2 linked regions of the Homo sapiens genome follow. Each later gene encodes a partner of the first gene's protein in a complex. Links are inferred from orthologs where the notes say so. Each region holds a gene or a part of one and is shown in the gene's direction. Other genes may lie near its edges.

The links. The genes of interacting proteins can lie anywhere in the genome.
Region 2: the proteins of CXADR (region 1) and JAML are in contact, whole or in part, in a crystal structure (PDB 3MJ7), measured with the Mus musculus proteins. The link is inferred for Homo sapiens from one-to-one orthologs. Residues at the interface, in NP_001020363.1 of Mus musculus: Thr23, Gly51, Pro52, Asp54, Glu56, Leu58, Ser60, Gln65, Ile66, Val67, Asp68, Gln69, Val70, Leu73, Tyr83, Lys121, Lys123, Lys124, Ala125, Pro126, Gly127, Val128, Asn130; in NP_001005421.3 of Mus musculus: Arg57, Asp59, Ala69, Tyr72, Phe75, Tyr77, Leu80, Val82, Glu120, Arg122, Ser127, Met128, Val129, Met130, Lys131.

What each region holds. Positions count from the first base shown.
Region 1 is NC_000021.9:17,557,088-17,565,727, forward strand, and holds part of CXADR (coxsackievirus and adenovirus receptor isoform 1 precursor), read left to right. Parts: intron 1-1,888; coding exon 1,889-2,044; intron 2,045-3,614; coding exon 3,615-3,737; intron 3,738-4,250; coding exon 4,251-4,389; intron 4,390-8,340; coding exon 8,341-8,605; 3' UTR 8,606-8,640. UniProt on the Homo sapiens protein: Component of the epithelial apical junction complex that may function as a homophilic cell adhesion molecule and is essential for tight junction integrity.
Region 2 is NC_000011.10:118,193,919-118,201,815, reverse strand, and holds part of JAML (junctional adhesion molecule-like isoform 1 precursor), read left to right. Parts: intron 1-1,203; coding exon 1,204-1,342; intron 1,343-3,724; coding exon 3,725-3,818; exon of another isoform or gene 3,819-3,848; intron 3,849-4,994; coding exon 4,995-5,081; intron 5,082-7,398; coding exon 7,399-7,491; 3' UTR 7,492-7,897. UniProt on the Homo sapiens protein: Transmembrane protein of the plasma membrane of leukocytes that control their migration and activation through interaction with CXADR, a plasma membrane receptor found on adjacent epithelial and endothelial cells.

The sequences.
Region 1 (8,640 bases):
AATAAAAACCCATTCACGACTGAAAAAATGAAAATCAGCTTAAACTAAAAAAGAAAAAAGTCTTGACGTTTATCAGCCGGAAGGACAGATACAGATTAAAGTCAGCCACAGAGTTTATAGAAAACATTGTCTCTCCCAAGGTTATAGAGTAGTAGTAAAGCATAGACTATTGCTGTCTTTTCTAGTGTTGCCCGCAGACCCACATTTCTCTACCCATCCTTTACTGGAATACTCAATTACTAAATGGCCCCACCTCCTCACAGCTCCCACTTCCTGTTTAATCCTCATTTTTCCTAATCTCAGAAACAGCTGATTGACAGCTGATGGCTACTTCCTTACAACCTCCTGAGAATCCTTCAGCATCCCTGCTCTTGTCCAGTGGCATTCCGTGGTTCCTCGTAATGCCGTCCTCACTAGTCAATCTGATTTTGATAGACCACACACTTGCTCCTTGTCAGTTTGGCTGACTGGGCTTTGACAGTAGCCCCAAACTGGAAACACAGTATTCATTAACAGGTGACTGGATAAGCAAACTTGTGTTATAGTCCATTGAAATACTAAAATAACTATATATACAATAACGGCTCAATCTCAGAAATGTTATGCTGAATAAAAGAAGACAAGAAAATACATACTGTAGTATTCTATTCATGTGGTTCCAGAAGAAGAGCTAATCTACAGTGGTAGAATCTGATCAGTGGCTTCCTGGGTCCAGGGTTTTGGAGTCCCATCTATTGTAACCAGCATGAGGGAACTTCCTTGGGAGAGGGTTGGAGTGGTGCTTAATGGATATAGACACATTTATTAAAAGTGATCAGCCCACGTGATTAACATGTTAACTTTATTGTGTGAATATTATACCTTATTAAAGTTCAGCAGAAGAGTATGCAATGCCAAGGTGTTAATCCAGGATTGGGGTGAGTTGCAGGTAATGGAGTTAGTAGTTGTTCTAAACAGTTACCCAGAAACACCTGGAATATAACCTCAGATTTCCTTTTTTTTTTTTTAATTAAATATTCTTTTTTACACATGAATTTCCAGGCTGTGAATATCTTTTTGATTCAGGGTCTGGTTCTGTCACCTAGGCTGGAGTGCAGTGACATGATCAAAGCTTCACTGCAGCCTCAAAATCCTGGTCTCAAGTCATCCTCCTACCCCAGCCTCCCAAGTAGCTACGACCACAGGCACACATCACCACACCCAGCTAATTTTTCGAAGTTTTTATTATGACAGAGTCTCGCTATGTTACCCAGGCTGGTCTCAAACCCCTGACCTCAAGTGATCCCCCCACTGTCTTGGCCTCCAAAGTGCTGAGATTACACTATGCCCAGCCCAGGTTTTCTTTTTTGTAGCCTGCTCTTTGGATGGATTTGAGGTGATGTAAATGCAGAATGCTAGTTGTTCCTTGCCACACTAAGTGTTGTTAGTATTGTTGATGATAAACTGCCTGATTGTCAGGGTTATGGCGCCTAGAGGGATGTGACTTGGTACATACTGCCAGAGGGTTACATGTCAGGCATGGGGAAGAATAGCTAAGGAATGGGAGGGGGAGCTTCCTTGACTCTCAAGTGGTCTTGCTGAAAAAAGCAAGTGCATCATTCTTGCTTTTTTTCAGGTGTGCCCCATGAAATGGACAGGCACCGAGCTATGCCTGAGATATTGCCATATCTACTAATGCAGTGGCTGCTTGTCTGAGCTTATTCTTTGCTGTTTTGTGTCAGATAAAGCTGAATAAACTGATGTTGATCACTTACTGTGGTCTTTCATTCTTTTGTGAATTCTGAACCCAGAACCAACTGATAATGAGTCAGTGGTTGTGTACAATGCTGTATTCATAAAAGTAAGTTCCATTCTCTTATGTAAATTTATAATTTGTTTTCTCTTTCAGTTAAGCCTTCAGGTGCGAGATGTTACGTTGATGGATCTGAAGAAATTGGAAGTGACTTTAAGATAAAATGTGAACCAAAAGAAGGTTCACTTCCATTACAGTATGAGTGGCAAAAATTGTCTGACTCACAGAAAATGCCCACTTCATGGTTAGCAGGTACTGCTGATAATAGTATTTGTACCACATGCCATTGATTTGGACTAAGATCTAGTAGGGGTGTGTGTGTGATTTGAGATAGGGCCTTGCTCTGTCACCCAGGCTCACTGCAATCACGGCTCACTGAAGCTTCAACCTCCTAGGCTCAAGTCATCCTCCCACCTCAGCCTCCCAGTTAGCTGGAACTACAGGTGCATGCCATCACACCCTGCTAATTTTTTTTTTAAAAAATGTGTAGAGACAGGATCTCCCTGCGTTGCCTGTGCTGGTCTCAAACTCCTGGGCTCAAGGAGTCCTCTTTCCTTGGCCTCCCAAAGTGCTGGGATTACAGGCATGAGCCCAGGCATGTGCCCAGCCTGCTTGTATATTGTAGATTCCCAGATGCTTTCTTTCCCTTTTCTACATAGAATAATCAGGATTTCCATAGGAATTATTCAGTGTTTTATAATATCAATTTAGTGTCATATATTATAAATGAAGAGCTATTCTATGATTTCATTTTTTTAGGATATTAGTTACTTTGGTACTTTTTTTTGGGTTTTTTTTTTTTTTTTTTTTTTCCGAGACAAGGGGTCTCGCTCTGTCACCCAGGCTGGGCGTGCAGTGGTAGAATCTCGGCTCCCTGCAGTCTTCACCTCCCAGGCTTAAGTGAGCCTCCCACTTCAGCCTCCCGAGTAGCTGAGACTACAGGCATGTGTCACCACACCCTGCTAATTTTTGTATTTTTTGTAGACATGGAGTTTCTGCATGTTGCCCACACTGGTCTCAAACTCCTGGGCTCAAGCTCTCCACCCACCTCAGCCTCCCAAAGTATAGGTGTGGGCCATTGCGCCTGGCGAATTTTTTTTTTTTAATTGATGAGACATGTTCATGATTACAACTTAGATGGTGGCTAAAGTATAGTAAGAGTTGGCTCTTTAGTGTTTTGCCTAGATTGAAAATATAGTAATTTACCCATGGTGTGTCTGTAAATTAAAAGAAAACCCGTGTGACACTAACTAGAAAGTTACAAATTGGCCAAATCTGCTCACCTATTTGTTATAATTGACTTCTTAGTTCAAACTGATGACCAGGCTCCACCCCGCCATCCACTGCATCCTGGTCTTTAGTAGGTTTTCTCTCTGCCTCTCTGTTTTTCAAACTAAGAGACCAATCTGGGAGTCCTCTTCTGACTTCCTTTTGTATGTTTCTTCCATCTAGGGGGGAATAAAATAGGTTTTGTATGTTTTCCTGCTGCAGGAAAGATCCTTTGTGGAATGCGGTAGCGTTTATAGTCTTATGTGCCCCAAGATGGGTTTGCAGCAGGTACACAGTGGACCAGCACCCCTGCTCCAGCTGAGGCTGTGTGCTGCAGGGGATCATGGTTACTTTCACCTTGATACATGTGAACTGGAAGCATGATTGAATTCTGGAAACATCTGTGTGGCTCAATGCCAGTTTGCTTGCATCCAGCCTTGGTCTGTCTTGCTTTTAACTGGATTGTTTAATTTGGAGAGGACTATGTTTACTAACACCTGATAACAATACATACTATAAAAATGAGTTTGTTTTCTTTTTCCTCCTTCCATAGAAATGACTTCATCTGTTATATCTGTAAAAAATGCCTCTTCTGAGTACTCTGGGACATACAGCTGTACAGTCAGAAACAGAGTGGGCTCTGATCAGTGCCTGTTGCGTCTAAACGTTGTCCCTCGTAAGTTATCTTCTTTCTGTTGGTGGTTTTGTTTCTGTTATCTTTATACCACCTCCTTTAGTTCAGTCAGCAAGTGTGTATTAAGGACAAAGGGACACTGACTTTGATCAGAACACTGTGGTTTGATTATTAGCTTTTCTAGAAAAATACATTTTATTAAAAAAACTTCATAATTGCAATGATATATTAAGAAGGTAAGAGTTGTCAAATCAACCCTTGTACCATATTTAGCTGTTATAAGTATGAGTAGCTTAGAACATTCTTATATGTTAACCAAGATAGCTTTGAATATTAAAATCTTTCAGACAGGTTTTATCATTTTAATGCTTGGAATAGATTATACAGTTCAGAAGACAGTTCTTTTTATGAATTTTTCCCCCGGATCAAAAAGACTAAATAATTTGTCTTAAAGTTAACACGTGATGAAATCAATCTAAAAATGTATAGCCTACCTTCAGTATCTATACATGTATATATGTATATATTTTTTACTATTAATTCTTCTTATTTTAGCTTCAAATAAAGCTGGACTAATTGCAGGAGCCATTATAGGAACTTTGCTTGCTCTAGCGCTCATTGGTCTTATCATCTTTTGCTGTCGTAAAAAGCGCAGAGAAGAAAAATATGAAAAGGAAGTTCATCACGATATCAGGTAATTAAGTGAGACAGGAGTTGACTGATGTATACCAAATATATGTCATTTCTCTAAAGCATTCGTTCTCTTATTAACCACCCAAAGCATCTTTCTTAGGAGAATGGGTAAAAGCTCTGGCCGCCTTCTCAATACATTTGAAAGCATTTACTTCTAACTGCAAGTGCAGAGCTCCAACCACCATTCGTTGTGCCCCGCTCCCCAACCTTCTCGTACCCCATTTTAAGAACCACTGCCAAATGATTATCTCAAGACTGCCTGCTTCTTGAGAAGAATCCCTGCCTGCAGTGGTAGGGATGAAGTAGATATTGAGGTTTGAAAAAAAAACTGACCTGATTGTATCAAGTAATCTGGAAGTTTGTAGAACAATTGGTAGTATAATTTTTATTTTCCTTAAATATTCTAAATCAGTAGGTCTTAACGAGAAGTGTGCATATTAGATAATAGAATTTTAGAAGTAATAACACATGACTTCACACCCTAGAAATTGACATTTGGCAGGTCTAGGGTGGGGTCTGGACACTTGTACAGGCACACTTCAGAGTTATCGCACACTGCGATAAATCACATGAATGTTTTTGTTTTTCCAGTGCATAAAAGGTTATGTTTATACTATATTGTAGTCTAAAATGTGCAGTAGCATTATGTGTAAAAAAACAGTGTAGATACCCCAATTAAAAAATATTGCTAAAAAATGCTAATGATTATCTGAGCCCTCAGTGAGTCTTAATCTCTCTGCTGGTGGAAGGTCATGCCTCACTGTTGATGACTGGTGGCTGATCAGGATGGTAGTTGCTGAAGGTTGCAGTGGCTATGGCAATTTCTTTCTTTGGTTGTTGGGTTTTTTGTTGTTTGTTTTCTGAGACAAGGTCTCGCTCTCTGTTGCCCAGGCTGGAGTGGAGTGATACAATTATGGCCCACTGCAACCTCTGCCCCCTGGGTTCAAGTGATCCTCCCACCTCAGCTTTCCGAGTATCTGGGACTACAGGCATAAGCCACCACACCTGACTAATTCTTGTATTTTTTGTAGAGATGGGGTTTCACCATGTTGCCAAGGGTGGTCTCGAACTCCTGGGCTGCATTGGCTCCTGCCAAGATGTCAACCTGTCCTTTAAAGCTTTGAAGCCAGACATTGACATCTTTAGCCACTAAAGGCCTAGATGGTGTCTTCTTCCAGTAGAAGTCTGTTTTGTCTCTATTGAAAATCTGTTACTTAGTGTAGTTACCTTCATCAACGATCTTTTAACTAGATCTTCTGGATAACTTTCTGTAGCTTCTTCATCAGCACTTTGTTGCTTCACTTTGTATTTTTATGTTATGGAAATGGCCTTTTTCCCTAAACTCATTAACCAGCCTCTGTTAGCTTCCAACTTTTCTTCTGCAGCTGCCTTAGCTCTCTCAGCCTTGATAGAATTGAATAGAGTTAGGGCCTTGCTCTGGATTGGGCTTTGGTGTAAGGGAATGTTGTGACTATTTTGATCCTCTATCCAGACCACTAAACTTTCTCCATATCAGCAATAAGACTGCTTCACTTTCTTATCGTTCACGTGTTCACTGGAGTAACACTTTGACTTTACTTTAAGAACTTTTTCTTTGCATTTACAATTTGGTTTGGCTGTTTGGTGCAAGATACTAGCTTTCAACCAGTGTTGGTTTTCAACATGCTGTCCTCACTAAGGTTAATTATTTCTGGGTTTTGATTTAAAGAGAGCCTTGCTGATGATTGCTTGACTCCAGGAGTTTGAGCTTGCAGTGAGCTAGGATCGCACCACTGCACCCTACCGTGGTTGACAGTCTCAAAATAAATAAGATATTTTTTTAAAAAGTAGAGCCATGATAACTATTCCTTTTACTTGAACACTTAGAGGTCATTGTAGGGTTATTAAGTGGCCTAATTTCAATATCATTGTGTCTCAGGGAATAGGGAGGCCTGAGGGAGGGGTGAGAGATGGGGAGGATGTTGGGGGGGATGGCCAGAACACACACAACATTTATTAAGTTTGCTGTCTCTTATGGGCATCATTCATGGTGCCCCAAAACAGTTAAAATAGTAACATCAAAGATCACTGATCACAGATCACCCTAACAGGTATGATTATGAGAAAGTTTGAACTGTTGTGAGAATTTCCAAAATGCAACACAGACATGAAGTGAGCACATGCTGTTGGAAAAATGGTACTGGTGGCCGGGCACGGTGGCTCACACCTGTAATCCCAGCACTTAGGGAGGCCGATATGGGTGGATCACGAGGTCAGGAGATAGAGACCATCCTGGCTAACACGGTGAAACCCCGTCTCTACTAAAAATACAAAAAATTAGCCGGGTGCAGTGGCGGGCGCCTGTAGTCCCAGCCACTCGGGAGGCTGAGGCAAGAGAATGGCGTGAACCCGGGAGGTGGAGCTTGCAGTGAGCTGAGATCACGCCACTGCACTCCAGCCTGGGCAACAGAGCAAGACTCTGTCTCAAAAAAAAAAAAAAAAAAAAAGGTATTGATACATTTGCTTGACACAAGGTTACCACAAACCTTCAATTTGTAAAGAAAAAACAAAACAAAACAAAAATGCAGTAAGTATCTATGAAGTGTAATAAAAGCAAGGCACAATGAAACGAGTATGGCTGTATTTTTTAAATGCACCAAAGATAACTCATATACATAGTTATTCTTCGGTATCCATGGAGGACCTCCTGCAGATACCAAAATCCAAGGATGCTCAAGTCCCTGATATAAAATGGCGGCCAGGCGCAGTGACTCACGCCTGTAATCCCAGCACTTTGGGAGGCGGAGATGGGAGGATCATTTGAGCCCAGGAGTTCAAGACACCAACCTGAGCAAGATGTCTCTATTAAAAAAAAAAAAAGGAAAAAGAAAAAGATACAATGTATATAACCTGCACACATTCTTCTGTATACTTCGAGTCATCTCTAGATTACTTATAATACCTAATATAATGTAAATACTATGTAAATAATTGTTATAATGTATTGTTTAGGGAATAATGACAAGAAAAAAGCTGTACATGTTAGGTATTTTAAAAATATTAAAACAAAATTTTCTATACATGGTTTGTTGGCTTCACAGATGTGGAACCCGTGGATGTGGAGGGCCAGTTGAGCTCTCTGTCAGTGTTTGGTATGAAAATTCTTATGCCTAAATTCCCAGCAAACTTAAATCTGTAGTGTTTTCAGCTAAGGTTTTAGATAACTTTAATATAAAAAGAATTTTTTCTTTTCCTTTTTTAAAAAATTTTAAAATTTATTATTTATTTCTCTTTTTTTGAGACAGAGTCTCACTCTGGCGCCCAGGCTGGAGTGCTGTGGCGCAATCTTGGCTCACTGCAACTTTGGCCTCCTGGGTTCAAGCGATTCTCCTGCCTCAGCCTCCCGAGTAGCTGGGATTACAGGCACCTGCCACCAAGCCCGGCTAATTTTTGTATTTTTAGTAGAGATGGGGTTTTGCCATATTGGCCAGGCTAGTCTTGAACTCCTGATCTCAAGTGATCTGCCCACCTCAGCTTCCCAAAGTGCTGGGATTACAGGTGTGATTAAGATAGAAATATACCTGTAGGTGTTAGTGTTTTCTCAACTATAAAGTGTTACATGGCTTTAACTAGATTGTCTTGACCAGTGATACTAGAATATGAAACTATTTGAGATTTGTGTTTTGTAAGACAACATTCTAGAATCATCTACATTTGTGTAAATACCATATTTCATTAAGTGTGAAGTTATAACTCTTTAATCAGAATGACAGATTGGAGACATACACAATTTATGACGTTATGGCTTGTGCTTTTTGCTTTTTTGTGACACACACACACACACACACACACACACACACTTTTATATGTTTAGTACCTAAATACAGGCTCTTATCCATGATTCATAGCTTGCATAATTGTAGGTTTTTAGAAACTTATTCTCTTGACATGTATTGGGGATTTTGCTTTGCAGGGAAGATGTGCCACCTCCAAAGAGCCGTACGTCCACTGCCAGAAGCTACATCGGCAGTAATCATTCATCCCTGGGGTCCATGTCTCCTTCCAACATGGAAGGATATTCCAAGACTCAGTATAACCAAGTACCAAGTGAAGACTTTGAACGCACTCCTCAGAGTCCGACTCTCCCACCTGCTAAGGTAGCTGCCCCTAATCTAAGTCGAATGGGTGCGATTCCTGTGATGATTCCAGCACAGAGCAAGGATGGGTCTATAGTATAGAGCCTCCATATGTCTCATCTGTGCTCTCCGTGTTC
Region 2 (7,897 bases), on another chromosome or scaffold:
CTAACAGGTCAGGTCAACAAGTCCTTGACTCCTACTACAGACTCTTGAAGTTGTCTTCCTTCCAGTCTGTCACTGCCGCCTTAGTTCTGGCTGTCTTCATCTCTGTCTTGAACTGTAGGCCTCTAACCAGTCTCTGCTTTCTCTCTCAGCCACTGCTCCTCATTCTTCACGCGGCTCTTGGTGCCATCTTTCTAAATCACATTAAGAACTTTCTCTTCCACTGCTAATAATCTTTCAATGTTGTTTTCATTGCCTGCAGAAAAATGCCAGATTCTTGGTTGAGATAGTCAAGGTCCTTCCTGACTTGGACCCTGTCATCTCTCCAGCGAAATTCTCCAGCACACCCACAAATGCCACTTTTGTGCCAGACCCGTTGAACTCTTTCTAGTTTCTAAAATCATCATCCTGTCAGGCCTCCAGATCTCATGCAGAACATCCCCTCTGTCCTTCTCCATATTGTCTTCCCAACAAACTGGATGTTTCCTGTAAGTCTTAGGTTAAACTTTAGAACTTTTGCTGGCAAATTCTCACTTGCTGCATATAGAATTGGACACCCTTTTTTCTGTGCCCCTCTGTTCCCCATACAGACTTCTGTTGTAGCGCCTACAGCAGCCTGTGGTTTTCTGTTGACGTGTTTGTCTTCTTCCTTGGAAGCAGGGACCACACATCATCATTCATCTCTGAATCCCCTGTACCTAGTGCTGTCTGGCCCTGAGGAGGTGTTTGCTTTATGTATTTAGAAAGAACCATGCAGATGAGTAGAAGGTTCCATATGGGCAGAAGTACCTCCGGAGGCTTTACTTGGTATCGTCACTGTGGGGCTGAGTCTTGCGGCATGAGTTCTTTTGAAGACAACCACTTGCCCTAAGGAAGATCAGCAGCCTCTCAAATGCCTGTTATTTCTGGGTCCTTGTTAAGCCAAATTTTAGAATAGAATTGTTGATGTGAAAGGAAACTTTACTAGAGGTGAACTGCTAGCCTCTTCTCCCACCCACCTTAATCTACATTTTAGGGTAAACGAGGGGGTTAGACTTTGGTTCTCAATCTCATGGAGACAGTGTCCCTAGTGTCCAGATATGGGGTGGAGTCTGGCCTTCCCCTCCGCTTCGTGGCCTGGCTGGTGCTACTTGGTATAGGGCTGTGGGGCTCTCAGCTCTTTGCTAAAGTATTGAGACCCTCTCCTTGCTTTTCTACTTTCCCAAGCACTGGTGACCCCGGCAGCCCTGAGGCCTCTGGTCTTGGGTGGTAATCAGTTGGTGATCATTGTGGGAATTGTCTGTGCCACAATCCTGCTGCTCCCTGTTCTGATATTGATCGTGAAGAAGACCTGTGGAAATAAGAGGTACAGGGCTACCCCCACCCCTTGGATTGGGAGGCTGGGGGTGCAAGGCTGCCTCTACCCCAAAGTAGAACAGGGTGATAGGGCCCTACTTATGCCATTCTCACAGAAGGGGGTATTTTTAAATGGAATCATCTGTGGTAACCCTGCCCACTTTGCTTACTGTGCCCGGGAAAAGAATTTAATATTCCTACGCTCTCCTCATTCACTTTGTTATTATGTAAAGACTACAAACTCCCTTAGAAATGGGGGCCTCAGTAGGGCATAATTCAGAGCATAAATCTTACACAAGAACTATCATGGTACCATTCACTGCCTAAAAGATGATTTTTAAATTATCCATACTGTACGTTCCGCATAGAAGCTAAGATCTTAAGGGTTGCCAGTGGTTTTATCTAAAAGACCACATTCTAATTATGAGATACGATCTTTGAATGGGTGCCCTCAGGTTCTAAATGAATTATTATTAAAAGATGCTTTTGGCCAGGCGCAGTGTCTCATGCCTGTAATCCCAGCACTTTGAGAGGCCAAGGCGGGCGGATCACGAGGTCAGGAGATCGAGACCATCCTTGCTAACACGGTGAAAAGCTGTCTTTACTAAAAATGCAAAAAATTAGCTGGACGTGGTGGCATGTGCTTGTACTCCCAGCTACTTGGGAGGCTGAGGCAGGAGAATGGCGTGAACCTGGGAGGTGGAGCTTGCAGTGAGCCGAGATCACGCCACTGCACTCCAGCCTGGGTGACAGAGCGAGACTCTGTCTCAAAAAAAAAAAAAAAAAAAAATAATAATAATAATAATGTGCTTTTAAAGGCCTGAATTTCATCGGTAGTTCTCCCAGGGTCTCAGAAGTGCCCAGATGCTCCAACAGGGACACTTGTGTTTCACTGGCTGTTGGCAGATCCATGTCCCTCAGTTTATCCAACTATCGATGGAGTATGCTTGTAGTGCAGATCGACTCCCTTGTTGAAATAGTGTCAGTGGGAAAGGGCCTCATGAATAGTCCTGACTTTTGAGTGTTCTTTCCCAGTGGGTCTTGGATCCTGCAGAAAACACTTGTGCCTGCTAAGTTTTCACTTGCACTCCCTAGGGCTTCCTGATTTGGTTTTGAACTTGGCTGGCCTCTCTAAAGGTCTTTGCTCTGGGCATGCTCGGAGCACTGAGCTAGACAACCTGGATTCCACTCTCAGCTTACTTCCCCTGTCGGGACCTCAGTTTCCCGCCAAAGGAAAGGTAGCACTTCCATGTCTAGTCGTTTATTCTAAAGAAATAATTAAATGGATATGCTGAGATTTGTGCAAAACTGCCGTCTTGCTTATAATTAAAAATAGGGATAATTGCCAGTGTCTGTCAGAAAGGCAACGATTCAGTGAACCAGTCAATGAAACACTCCAGATCCCTCTACATAATGACATGGAAAGATATCCAAGGAGTAAAAATACAGAATTTATGGTATGACCTCATTTTTATAAAAGAGAAAATAATATGATGCTCACTCCAGCAGCATATGTACTAAATACATTTTATGTGAGCTTATGCTTACACTGAGAGAGGCTTGGAAGGACAGTTGTAAAATGTGGGTAATTGTGTGGAATTTGAAGTGAAGGAGAAGGTGGATCCCATGGGGTGACGGGTTGCAGGGAACTTCCACTTCCAACTGTCTACATTTCTGTATTATCTGAATTATTTGACAGTGAGAAGATACAACTTTAAAAGCAGAAAATACAAGGAAAATATTTCCACTGAGACCAAAACATATGGTTTCTTTTCTAGCTTAAACCTTGAATTTTTTTTTTTTTTTTTTAGTTCTGACTTAGGCCAAAATAGAAAAAAAGAAAGTATGTTCAGAAGGCAAATGGTCATGAGATCAAAGGCCAAGGGACCCCGACAGGGCAGGCGCAGAGCTCCTGCTTGGGGCTTGGGTCGGGTGTTTGTGGGGGTTATTCTGCTCCGCCCCCCGGAAAGGCCAGGAGCCCTTCGGATTGGCGTCTTGCTGAGCTCCTGCTGCCCCCTGCTGGTTTCGCGGCACTCCCTGGTCCTCAGAAATGTAGACAGGATGGTCAAATGGAATCCCATCTCCCCTCTCTCTCTTCATTCACTTAAAATTACCTCTCCCATACGGACTGAAAGTGGCTTGAGTGATAATAGAGAAGTTGAAGCTGCTTTTCAGCCTAAATTATCTCCAGAACGGCTTCTTGTTCTTCATTAGAAGAGATGCGCTTCTCAGGTTTCCAGGTGAGCCGGGTAGCCCTGGCTGTAGGAGTCCAGAGAGAATAGTTCCTTCTCTGGTGTCTCTCTCTTCACGAAGCCAAGAGGGGATCTCATGTAGGGACCCTTGAATAAACCATGCCCGCTGGTTAATTCCACATGCTTTTCATGTCTTGCAGTTCAGTGAATTCTACAGTCTTGGTGAAGAACACGAAGAAGACTAATCCAGAGATAAAAGAAAAACCCTGCCATTTTGAAAGATGTGAAGGGGAGGTGAACACACGCTTCAGCCTAAAACACTAAGTAGATGCAGGCCTGGGCCGTTCTCATACCCCCGGGAACCATATCTTACCCATTGTATGTCGCAGCTTGCAGGCCAGTGCTTGGCACAGAGCAGGGACTCAGGAAGCCTTTGTCACTAAAGTAAGAGCCTCTGCGGAGTACAGTGCATGGGGTCGGCTGGGACAGCCCCAGGCAGCAGATCCTGGTATTGGGCTGAGGAAAGAGCACTGCGCTTGGAGTCAGTAAGATCTGCCACCTCCCTGAGTCTCATCAGCAAAATGAGGATAAAGATAAAGATACTATAGTTGCCCAGCCTGCTTGACAGGGTTGTTGTAAGGTTCACATAAGATGATGATATGCAAATGCTTTGTAATCTAGGAGGTGCTATTTGTCTAAAGTCTAATGGAGAATTATAATACATCCAGGAGTTAAGGAGTTCTAATGCTTAAAATGAAATAGTCTAAGATCTTAGCAAGAAAGGATTAAGAAGGACTTTTCTCTCCATATTGATTTTGTAATGGAGTTATAAATAATTGCTTCTAGAGACTGAGAAATTGATTGGTTTTCTTTAACTCCTATTCTTTCTTTTCTTTCTTTAATTTTAAAAAAACTCTTTGAATAGTTACCTTTCTCTATTTTGGGCTGTTTTTGTCCCAAGAGTAGGATTTTTTCCCAGTAGAGTGCAGTGGTCCAAGAATGGGCCACTGGATGATACTGCTTTACCAACGAGTGACAGGACCATGAACCTCACAGTTGTGAGGTTCAATGAGGGCTGGCCCTGCCACATAAATCCTCTGAGGGAGATGATGACAATTCACTGCTGATTAATGCCATTCTGCCTTTACTGTAATTAGAAGGAAATAACCCCAGAATACAAGGAATTTAGCAAGATAAGGAACCCCTGCTGCTACCTAAACATCCATCTAAACAAAGATGTTTGGCTTTTGAAGCAAAGAGTTTGGTTCTTAAGACTGTGTTCTTTGACAGTTAATTTTCAAGAAGACTGAAGACTGAATTATCATTGTTGAGAATTCTCTAGGTCTCAGTAACCCTCTGAACCAGCAGTTTGGGTGGTCGATGCCTAGCAAATAGGAGTGGGTGGCCTTTTCTCTGGTGTATAAGATTCATCTAATTTTTAGGAATTTTTGTACCATTTTCCCCCTCTAGAAACACATTTACTCCCCAATAATTGTACGGGAGGTGATCGAGGAAGAAGAACCAAGTGAAAAATCAGAGGCCACCTACATGACCATGGTGAGAATGATTCTGGCCTCAGCTGAGCCAGGTGTCAGAGGCTCAGGTGGTGGTGGTGGTGGGCGTGGCTGGGTTGCCCAAGGGAGGCTGCTGAGGGCGGTGATTTTTCTAAGTAGCAGAAAAGTCTGAGAAACTGAAGTTCTGCTGGATAGAAGAGTGATATCAAACTTTCTTACCCAAGCTCAAGGATTAAAGGTTATCACCAGAGATTATTTATATTAGTGGTGAAAAGAAGTGAAGAGTGGCTTTTACTGAGGGCAGGGAGGACGTCTTTTGCCTCATCAGTTCAATCTAATAAAGAAAACACGGCCGGGTGTGGTGGCTCATGCCTGAAATCCCAGCACTTTGGGAGGCCGAGGTGGGCGGATTGCTTGAGGCCAGGAGTTCAAGACCAGCCTGGCCAATGTGGCAAAACTCCCTCTCTACTAAAAATACAAAAATTGGCCAGGTGTGGAGATGCGTGCCTATAATCCCAGCTACTTGGGAGGCTGAGGCACGAGAATTGCTTGGACCTGGAAGGCGTTGGTTACATGAGCCGAGATCCACCACTACACTCCAGCCTGGGAGACAGAGTAAGACTCTGTTTCAAAAAAAAAAAAAAAGGCCGAGCATGGTGGCTCACACCTGTAAACCTAGCACTTTGGGAGGCTGAGGCAGGTGGATCACTTGAGGTCAGGAGTTTGAGACCAGCCTGGCCAACATGGTGAAACACTGTCTTACTAAAAATACAAAAAAATTAGCCAGGCATGGTGGCGGGCACCTGTAATCCCAGCTACTTGGGAGGCTGAGGCAGGAGAATTGCTTGAACCTGGGAGGTGGAGGTTGCAGTGAGCTAAGATCGCGCCACTGCACTCCAGCCTGGGAAACAGAGCGAGACTCCTGTCTCAAAACAACAACAACAACAAAGAAAATAGGATAAATAGGATAAGATCCTTGGGCAAGTATTGTGTTGCTGTGAGTCGTTTTCCTTGCTATCAAAAGGTCAAAGTAGGGTTCCTTCCAATGCTTAGATTTTGTTTCTTAACTTTGTGACTTATTATACCTTCTCATAACCTAACTGCCAGGCAGGCTGCATGCTGGATCTCATACAATATTTTGGAGTCTGATTCCTAATTTCCCTTTGCTTAGACTTCTGTAGCCCCTTAGAGAACTGCAGTGCCTGGAAAAGGCACCTCGGGGCGTGCAGTGAGTGGGGGTAGGGACAAAAGGAGTGAGCTGGCGATGAGCACGGTGCTATTTGTAGACTAATTATAGGCACCCAGCCTATTAAGGAGCAGTGTTCTGTGGGTTTGGGAAGGCTGGCCTCCTCTGCTTGTGGAATGATGGGCTTTGTTTGTTCCTATCGTACCAGCCCTGAGGACACATGACTCCCAGCTGATTGCAGCAGAGAGAGGTCTGCCAGGGAAGTGTGAGATCAGAGGCCTGGCCTGGATCCACCGAGTGAAACATTAACTCCACCCTGAAGTTGCAGCTGAATGGAATCATTTTCCCTCTGTATCTTTCTCCCATACTGTTATGTGATGCTGCAGTAACTTGCGAGGCCTCATCCTGGCTCCTGGAGACCTGCTGATACAGCTGCCTTGTGGCTACTGCTGAGTGGGTCACCAGCCAGGGTGGCACTGTTTGCAGAACGTCTCCGAGGTGGAGATGATGCAGGAGGAACAATTGTCTTCACAGCTAACTTCCCCAGGTTTAATGCTAGGCGATTATGGTTTTGATTCTGTTGAAAACACCATTCCTGTCCTCTTGATCTAGATCCAATAGAGTAAGAGAAGAGGCCTGGGCTGCAAACTCAAAGGCTGGCAGGGGCCAGTCAAGTTATTTTAAAATATGATGTGCCAAGTTAAATAAGGCTGTTGGTGAATTTGGGACTGCAGGCCACTTGTTTGAGACTGCATTTATAAAGGTGTTCTCTGATAGGGAGCAGGGGTAACAAAGAGCCTTTGTTTTTTGTTGTTGAATTGATGAAATTCATGTAAATGTAGTGGCACCTTGCTGTTTTCCCTTTCTGAGGCTGTACACACAGAGGTTAAGATCACAAGCTGTGGAGTTAGACAGACCTGGGTCCAAATTCTAACTCTGTGTTGCAGCCAGATGGTCTTGGGCAGTAACTTGGCCTGTCTGAGCCTCAGTTTCCTTATCCTTAGAAAGGCAATAATAATACCTACCTCCTGGTGGTAAGGATCACATGAGATAATGCATATGAAATTCAGTACTGGGCCGGGCTCATGAGAAGAGCTCAATGAACAGCAGCTGCTATGATTATGGAACTACTTCTTACAAGCATGTTTTGTTTCTTTCTGCCCTTCCCCCACAGCACCCAGTTTGGCCTTCTCTGAGGTCAGATCGGAACAACTCACTTGAAAAAAAGTCAGGTGGGGGAATGCCAAAAACACAGCAAGCCTTTTGAGAAGAATGGAGAGTCCCTTCATCTCAGCAGCGGTGGAGACTCTCTCCTGTGTGTGTCCTGGGCCACTCTACCAGTGATTTCAGACTCCCGCTCTCCCAGCTGTCCTCCTGTCTCATTGTTTGGTCAATACACTGAAGATGGAGAATTTGGAGCCTGGCAGAGAGACTGGACAGCTCTGGAGGAACAGGCCTGCTGAGGGGAGGGGAGCATGGACTTGGCCTCTGGAGTGGGACACTGGCCCTGGGAACCAGGCTGAGCTGAGTGGCCTCAAACCCCCCGTTGGATCAGACCCTCCTGTGGGCAGGGTTCTTAGTGGATGAGTTACTGGGAAGAATCAGAGATAAAAACCAACCCAAATCATTCCTCTGGCACATTATTTCTAAATAAGTGTTGTTTGTGGAAATCG